2 separate regions of the Homo sapiens genome follow, and region 2 is reported to be linked to region 1. Evidence: microRNA targets listed by miRTarBase, many of them from high-throughput screens and not tested one by one. Region 1 holds a microRNA gene; the other region holds the end of a gene's coding sequence.
The links. The annotated mature microRNA hsa-miR-1206 reads UGUUCAUGUAGAUGUUUAAGC and lies in region 1 at 3,190-3,210, opposite strand. An mRNA with a match to its seed (bases 2 to 7 or 8) in the 3' UTR can be bound and repressed. Matches are read on the target gene's strand: a 7mer-m8 pairs with bases 2 to 8, a 7mer-A1 pairs with bases 2 to 7 and ends in A, and an 8mer does both.

Region 2: miRTarBase lists EXOC6 as a target of hsa-miR-1206. Seed matches in the 3' UTR shown: 7mer-A1 at 2,804-2,810.

The regions. Positions count from the first base shown.
Region 1 is chr8:128,007,712-128,012,110 of GRCh38, reverse strand. MIR1206 (microRNA 1206) reads right to left here and starts at 3,213; the gene lies at 3,155-3,213. It overlaps PVT1 (Pvt1 oncogene), which reads right to left. Exons shown (of 9, transcript NR_190187.1): 5 at 2,393-2,521; 6 at 1,667-1,793. It also overlaps the pseudogene RNU4-25P.
Region 2 is chr10:93,057,368-93,061,766 of GRCh38, reverse strand. It overlaps EXOC6 (exocyst complex component 6), which reads right to left. Exons shown (of 22, transcript NM_019053.6): 22 at 2,277-3,544. The coding sequence ends at 3,412. It overlaps CYP26C1 (cytochrome P450 family 26 subfamily C member 1), which reads right to left and starts at 969. Exons shown (of 6, transcript NM_183374.3): 1 at 300-969. The coding sequence starts at 503. RefSeq lists an enhancer at 42-951.

The DNA of each region.
Region 1 (4,399 bases):
AGCTAATGTACTCACAAAAATGCTTTGGAAATTTTAATGTGCTCCACAAATAAGAGGGAATCGTTTCTGTTTGTAATGATTCACTGTGAGCTCACAAGTCCCAAAGACTAAGTGACCTTATGGGGTCGCATCACAGTGCAATGCTTGGATCCTTTCAGCCCCACCCCCTCTCAGTAGTAATACAGTCCCTGTGTGGATATCTCCAGTGATGAGATCCCAACCACTGTCAGAGACAGAGCATTCTCTCAGGTTCCTTTTCCTTTTATTAAGTTGCTTTCTGTTTGCCTACTGTTTCTACCTTTCCATTTTGGTTCTGATCTTTGGGGCCACAAGAAGTATATTTGACCTCTTCTCAGCCTTTCACTAATTGAATATCACCACCATCAAGGTCCAGTCTCTACCTCCTAACTCCTCTCCACATCTTCTCTCTGTGAAGCTAAGACGGCCCTAGTTTCCTTGTATTTCTCCATTTGGAAGGCAATAATAGACTGCACCAGACTGGGTGGCTTAAATAATAGAAAATTCATTTTCTTACAGTTCTGAAGACTACAAGTGCAAGATCAAGGTGCTAGTATGGTCTGTTCTGATGAGGGCCCTCTCCTTGCATTGTGGATGGCTCCCTTCTCATTGTGTCCTCACGTAGCAGAGAGAGAAGAGAGACAGTAAGCTCTCTGAGGTCTCTTATTTTGAGGGCACTAATTTCATCACGAGAGCCCCACCCTCATAATCTCATTTAACCTGAATTATCTCCCAAAGGTCCACTTCTTAATACTGAGTACATGGGGGTAGGTTTCATCATATACGTTTGGAAGAAGGAAAACAGTTCAGTCCATAACACTCCCCCACAAAAGATTATCTTGCTAAACAGAAGCAAATCTGATTGAGACATTGACTAAGTACCCACCATGCTTACAAAACATGACTCGTATATGCTGAGGAAATCAATTTGATTGCCCTACCATCAAGACACATATAGTCTAAAGATTGTTGCCATCTACATTTTAGAGGTCCCCGCACCTTAAGACAGAATGAGCCAGAGGCCTGGGTAAATTTGGAATTTACAAATAGAGTCAAAGAAGTCAAGGCAAGAGAAAAACATAGCCCCACCCTTTCATTAGATTTTATTCTAGAGATTAAGACTCCTAAACCAAAATCACAAAATCTCAACCCATTCACTGTTGACTGATTGCCTTCTTTGGACCATGCTGCAGAAATCACAGCAGCAATAAACACGGCAGGCAAATGTGTCAACCCCTGGGGAACTTTAACTTGTTTTCTGCTGTTGTAGTGAGATCAAGTGTGTGTGATTCAACAAGACGGGACATGTGAAACTTCCCTGTACCCCTCAAGCCCAGCACAGAGCCTCATCCAGAGTAGATGCTCAATGATGACACCTTATAAAACAACAAATAATAGCCAAGACCTCTCCTAAGTCTGCTGAGGGGTAGCCACATGGCTTCTTAAAAGTCAGAGGCCATTTGCTATTAAAGAAAGCCATGAGCTTTGCGCAGTGGCAGTATCGTAGCCAATGAGGTTTCACCGAGGTGCGATTATTGCTAATAGAAAGCCACAGATGGTCCTGGAGACCAGAGCCATCAAAACCCTTGTTCTTGTGCGGAAAAGAAGGCAAACCAGGGACCGAACTTGGCTTTTGAAGATGACTCACCACCAAAATCCCAGGTCTTGATGACAGGTTAAATCTTGTAAAACTTTAATTTGGCGAAGAAGTTGGCTGCTGTATTACTCTGTCACATGTCTTGGGAGAGGTCCAGTTTCTGTCACCCTAGCATTAACTGAAAAGCGGGATGAAATATGAAGACATTTTGCAGTTTATAAGAGAAAAGCACCAGGGAGTTTTAACAATTTGGAGAAGTATCATCCTAAAATTGGACTCTAATGGTCACTGAAACCATTGCTGCATTCAGTAAAACTGGGTTGCCTAAAGCTACTGCCATGGAGAATCTAAAACAAGACATAAAGAGGCAGGAATCAGTCACATAGAGGCTTGATGTACAATATGTCCAATGAAGCTTCCACCGGAGAACTGAAAAGCAGTATCTCAGCAGAATTGCAACTTCTGATTTTAGGTTCTTGTCAATCTATTCTAACTCTTAGCAAAAGATTCTTGCTGTTCAGCCTCAGAAACACTTTTATCTTAGTCGACTTTCCTGAAATCATGCTGTATTGAGCTATGATTCTTACTCAAATGTAGTTCCTATGTCAGAATCTCATCAATGAGAAATTTCGCAAGATTGCGTGCCAAAATATCCAGTACCACACTTGCATATTTTTACTTCAAACAGAATTAACACTGCATCTTAGACACAGCGTGGTTTACCCTGCTAGTCATCTCAAACACTGAAGACGGTGACTGTACTACATGATTATTTACCTGCTCAGCTCAGGTTCCCATTGTTCACATTCACATCAAGACAGATCAGCACTGGCACAACCACTGCTTTTATTGGGTATATCAAGTGTTAACAGATCCTTCAATGTGTTTCTCAAAATCTCTGTTGGCCTATGGTAAAGAAAAATAAAATCTATTTTGAAAACTCACAGAGCTCTAGTTAAAGGTTCATTTAATACCACCTATATGTCTTTAATGTCTTTAGACAGAAAAAAAAAAAGCTTTACAGTTCAATTAATGTTTCCCCTTTGGGTGCAATTTAACAGGGAGGGCTTCAGAAAAAGAATGAAAGAGGGCTATTAAACACATTTCTTATATAAAGATACTTGTTCTTATGCAGGACATATAGAATAGGACTTTTTTGTAGCAAATATTTTAAACAAGAGATATTTTGTTATGTGATGCTTTTTTAGCTGCAGCTAAAACAATTTTTAGTCGTGGAAATTCTGAAAAGCTTGTCATTTCTTTTATTATACTTACTAGAATATGATTACTTTTGTTGAAGGACAATATTTTCCCCTCTTTTCCTTACCCTGTGGCCCCCAAAAATGTTTCTGCTAATGATATAAGCAGATTTCTAATACTTTATCTGCTTTTAATCTATGAAAATTAATATTTGGATACTTCATAATTATCTTGATTATGTCACTTGATAAAACAGTGATAGGTATTAATGTTAGTTCAGCCATATATTTATACTGCCTGGGAATAGGTGGCTGCAATTGTGTGGCGAGCATAATTTGGCAGCGTTCACTAGCTTGCAAAAACCTACTGCAAGAGCTTAAACATCTACATGAACACTGATATGAAAAAAGCATGTAAGCCTGACCATAGCTTCTAGTTCCTAGATGGACCTGGCTGTGTTTTTCAGGCCCCAACCTGCAGGGAGCCCCTTCAATCTCATCAGCTGAGTGGGCAGAATAAAGACATCATGCCTGCACATGCTTAGCATTGTGCCCAGCATGGTCAGGGATTGATAAAAACACTTGTGTATTCTCTTTTTATTATCATCACCACCATTATAATCATTACTGAGAGATGCATCCGTAGAGACATCATGTCAGAGAGAAGCAGAGGAACCCAGAAGGCAGCAATGAAACTAACATTTAGAAGCAACACAGGTGATGGGGCAGCCCAGAAAGCTGAAGACAGAAACCATTTCGGAGAATTAGCTGCAAAAGAAGTAGGGAACAGGCATGAGAAGGGGACAGTTCTTTCTGGAGCTAACTCAGTGAACACACCAGAGCCTGTGGGAACATACATTTTTGCATCAGTTTCCTCATTGATAAATTGGAAGAAAGGTACATGGTAGAGAAGGTTACATTAGTCGATATTTGTAACAAGTCAGGGCACATAACAGGCCCTCACTCAAGAGAAGACACTTTTGTTCTCACATCTCCCTTCTTAAATTAAGGAGCATCTGCCCTGTATACAATCCTGCACAAAAATAAATCCACGTAAACAAAATTTCACAGTAACTACAAAAGCCTAATGATCATTAAAAATTCCTGGGAGAAACAGATGACCGTTCACTAATTAATCGGGTTTAGATAAATCAAGCACCACTTAAAGAATCACTGCTCCTTAAAGAGGTAAATGCAACGATTGTCACATGGCCAATTTCTAATTTTTCATTTCTCTGGGGAGACCAAAATGATACAATCTTAGTAATAAATTTCTCCCTAAAGTTTCTGAGGACAAACAATTTCCAGCCTCCTCAGACAAAGGTAAGATGAGTCAACTAGCATTACTGTCAACAAGTATGAAATGTAGGCCACCTTTGTGTCTACAACTAACATACTTTGTTAAGGATCAGATGTAGGACAGTGGTTTGTGGAGTGAAAATTAGGTGGGTGTCCACTGGGCAAGACATTGCACAGCACTGCCTGTGCTGGAAAATGCAAAAGAGAATAAGCTGGATGGGAGTACATCAAACCTAAACCTACACGTGTAGAATCACACTCATGCATACAACCCACATTCTTACTG
Region 2 (4,399 bases), not on the chromosome of region 1:
GCTCCAGGCTCCTTTTCTACCCTTGCAGGACGTGCTCCTCAGACCCCTTCCTAAAACCCCTTATGTTTACCCCCTGCGTTGTGTCTGGGAGTTGCTCTGGGGGGAATTCCAGTGACTTGAGGTCCCTTCGAGGGAACGGAGTATCTAGGTAAAGGCGAGAGTTGTGCGCGCTTCCCGGGGTCGTGGGCGATGGGCAGGGACTGGCTACAAATCCCATGGGCATTGAGACTGAGGAGGGTCCAGTGGGAGCCGGGGGAAGAAGGGACCGTATTAGCGCTCGGGGTCGAAGGACTGCTCACCTGAACTAACCAGTGCAGCGTTTCGCCGAAGAAGGGCCACCCCATGGAGCCCTTGGGCAGAGGCAGGGTGGAGGCCCGGTCCCGGCTCAGCATCCAGCGGAGGGTCCAGAGGTGCTGGGCCAGGCTGAGCAGCAGGCCCGCGCACAGGAGAGCAGTGCCCGCCGCCCCCAGCACTGACAGGCAGCTCAGCCCCCAAGGGAACATGATGAGCCCGCGGGGGCCAGGCCGCTCAGAGCGCAGGGAGAGCAGGGGACGCAAGAACCGGGGCGCGAGCAGTGCGCAGTGCTCACCTGTTCCGTCCGCAAAAGGCCTGGGGTTTGGGGGCAAAGCCCGAGATTTATAAGCTCAGGCCAGAACTCTGTTCTAAAAACAGACGGACGGTGAAAGACTGCAGTGACCGTGCGCCCTTAGGGAACGTGCCTTCCTCGAGGCCGGCACGCTCAGGACTTTTTCCTGGCTCCTGGGCCCAAATGCCAGTCCCTCTCGAAGGTGCCTGCTGCCTCGGGAACGCTCACTCCCGGCTCCGCGGGGCACCTCCCACCTCCTCCCGGGCTCAGCACCCTTTGGATAGAAGAAGGGAAGGAGGGCGAAAGAAGAGCAACTCACCAGTGTTGCCAACCTGGTCTGCAGACCCCCGCCCCACCTGTCCCTCCTCCAGTCGTTTAACCCTTCTTGGCCCACGCTGGACACGTTTATATAGATATTGGCTCCCCCCCTACGGACCGATCCCGGTTCACACAACGTGACGTGTCTTTGCATATTTAAAGCGCTCCACGCAGAGTGGTGATTGGAGGCGGTGGGCAGCGGCGCGCTCACGGAGGGGCTCTGAGTAGGGAGTGGCAGGCGCCGGGGCGGCTCGAGCTGGGCTGGGGGCTCGCCCCGCGAGCGTCCTCGGGCGGGGCCTGCGGGTTCGCGCCAGAGCTTCCCCGCTCTTCGCAGGCGCTCAGAAAGTGGGCGAACCCAACGCGCAGAACTGACCCGGGCTTGCGCCCCGCAGTGCTCCTGGCCCACCCCCGGCCGCTGGCTCCCTCTGCCGTCCCCGCCCTCGAGCTTCTAGGTGCCTTTCTCTCGCCACTCCAAGGTGAAAGAACTGGGCTTTTCTCTCCTTTGCTCCGACTATTTCAGGGAAACTGCAGTCGTCGACGCCTGCGTTGGCATCGCAAAAGCCCAGGAGGGATAGCGCAGCCGAGATTCTCCGACAGCTCCCCACCTCTCCCGGCTCTCTGATCTACCACGTCAGGTATCCTTCCAAAGATGGCAGTTCCACTACTGCCCTAGGCTTCATAAAGACGTCCTAAGCCTCCAGAAGCGGATACCCACGAGCACCTTTCCGGTCTCAAGGACCGAATTCATCCTTCCCTGCACATCCTTCCCTCCCTCCCCCGAGTTTGCCCGACGACTCTTGTCAATCTACATTGTTGCGTTTTGGGCTTTGTGCGTCCCATTCAAGGGTTCCAAATGCCTCAGGACTCACTCGTTCTTGTCCCTACAGTGCAACCTGGGGTGTGTGTGGAGGGGTGCAGGGTGTTTATATTATTGGTAAGAGTAAAGAGGTCCCACAGTGGTCTCCTCCAGGCAGTGCAAAGGCAGTATCTCTCTGAATCCCGGGACGTCTCAGCCAAAGCAGGGAAGACACCCCAAGTACGCTGGAAGGCTGGGTAAGGCGCGAAGGGCAGCCCCATTCCAGTCTTCAAAGAGAGCTAGCTGTTCACCGCTCCTCTCCTCCAGATTTCACCGTGCCTGAAGAACTACCATGCTTTTCATGTAATATTTTTAAAAACATTAAATACTTTGGATTAAGAGATGATCGAGAGAACAAGTGCGCATATGTATATATATGTGTGTGTGTGTGTGTGTGTATGTATATATACTGTTTTGGTGCCACTCCCATTCCAGTAACTAGGAAATAATATGCCTTTTCTCCAGGAAGCACTTGTTTTAAATCAGTAAGCTCTGAATAGACAAAATAGTAATGCATTTTCAACAACTTGCTCAATATTTTTAATATTTCATCACAAAATCCAGAGATGTACATATAATTCTTTACACTTATTTTACAGAATCAGGCATAGTTTCTTACAGGCCTAAATCCTGAAAAGGCAAAGGGAAGATTCAGCATAAATACAACAAAGGGAGAATAAAGACTGGATTTATATTGCCATTTGGACCACGGAAACATACACAAAGGAAAATGTACATTTGTTTTAGGTTTTCCAGAGTTCATTTGGTTTGGCTTGTTTCCACAATGAGGATAAAGTACTGAAATCTGCTATTTGAAGAAAGTAACCTGACCCCTGTGGTAACTTCTGTGTGCAGGAACCATCTACCCTCGCACAAGCTGCACCTGAAGTGGTTAGCCCCATTTAGTTCCTGTCCTCTCTTTTAACTGGAACCAAACCAAACCAAACAAATCCAGAATGGGGTCACCTACAAGCAATATAGTTAGAAATATTAACCCTGATGAACAGAAACAACACTGCATCTTTAGAAAATCCAAAACCTTTTGTTCATATTCAGAACGATTAAATTAAACCACCCAAGTAGAACAAATAATTCACATTCTTACTGAGTTAAATCAAGTTTGATTTCAGGCAGCTTTTAAGATTTGTCTATTTCCCCTTCAGAATTAGCAGAATTAGAAATTTTGGTCTGCTTAAATCACATTGAGGTGAAAATAAAAGCTAAAAGTCAGAAAATGGTAGTGAAATACTACCATATCAGACATGATTGAATTCCAAAGCCATATACTGATCAAAAAACAGATTATCATTCAAGTCTAAATAGAAAAAAATACTTATGAGTAGAGGCATATGTTTTTCAAATGTATTTGTAATCAATTTCATGTATAATTTGTGACAATTTATGTATTACACTTTTGCATTTTCCCCTAAAAGTGAAAAAATGGTCATTTTTTTCCATATATAAAATAGTATTCGATTATTTAAAAATCCATACAAATGATATTTATTACTATTTCTTGTTTAAGCCCTCATGTATCTTCTCTATTGTATTTTTGGATTCTGTAAACAAATTACTGTATCATGACCAATACTTGCTCAAGATCAACATTGAATCATGGATTTGGTGTCACTGAGTGCAAGCCATGTGAGGTCTACATGTGCTGGGACATACCATTCACCAAACTTCTCAGCTGTTTCACGACTGTCTCTATCAACTTCTGTTTGTCTCGATCATTCTTCCTGAACTGAGCAAATATATTGTTCTTTTTGCTAGTATCCTTCATCCTAGAAACATATGTGAATGAAGAAGCTTGGTAAAAGAAAATTAAAAGCTAAGCTGTCACAAGTAAAATATCTTGGCATGCTCTGAATTATCCCACACTAATCCTATGCTTGAAAAATATAGTTCAAAGAAAGTAGATACTAAATAAACATACAGATATAGTAACCATGCAAAAAATTAGAAGCTTTATTTTACATTCTATGTTAAGTGGTATTTTTGCATTAGTATGTACATCTAAAATATGCTAGGTTTACTACTATCATACTATTTTCTAATATTATTCCACAAAGTATGCTAAAATACATACCCTGTATAGACTCTGCTAATCATATTCATAGCAAGATAAGGTGAAAGGAAAATAACATTAGAAAATGTAAAATAGCGATGTTTTTGCCTCAGTTGCATTTCATGGCATTGTAAAATAAATTTACATTTATTTTAAACACTTCCTCTTGTCCTTTCAAATCAAATACACCACAAATATTTTGAAATATAGGAAAATAATAACAATTTTAATTTAAAATTGAAAATTTTAATAGTGATACTTTTTTATTTTTCTTATCCAGCAGCCCCCAGAATCACAGCAGATTCAGAGAGTCTCCCAATAGTGACATTTTAAATGAAATATGATTGAGTAAAGAAAAAGTCTGTCACATAATGAGAGGGAAAAGTTAACACCTAAATTTATGTTTAGTTGGACAAGATGCATCAGTAAATCCTATTACCTCAGTTTTTACTGTATTTTTTTTTTCAAATCACATATTTCTCTACCTGCAAAGAATCCAAGTCCATAATGCTAAGATTTAGGTAACACTGGTGGCAAACATTCCAATTCCTGGTCACATTTGACAAAATAC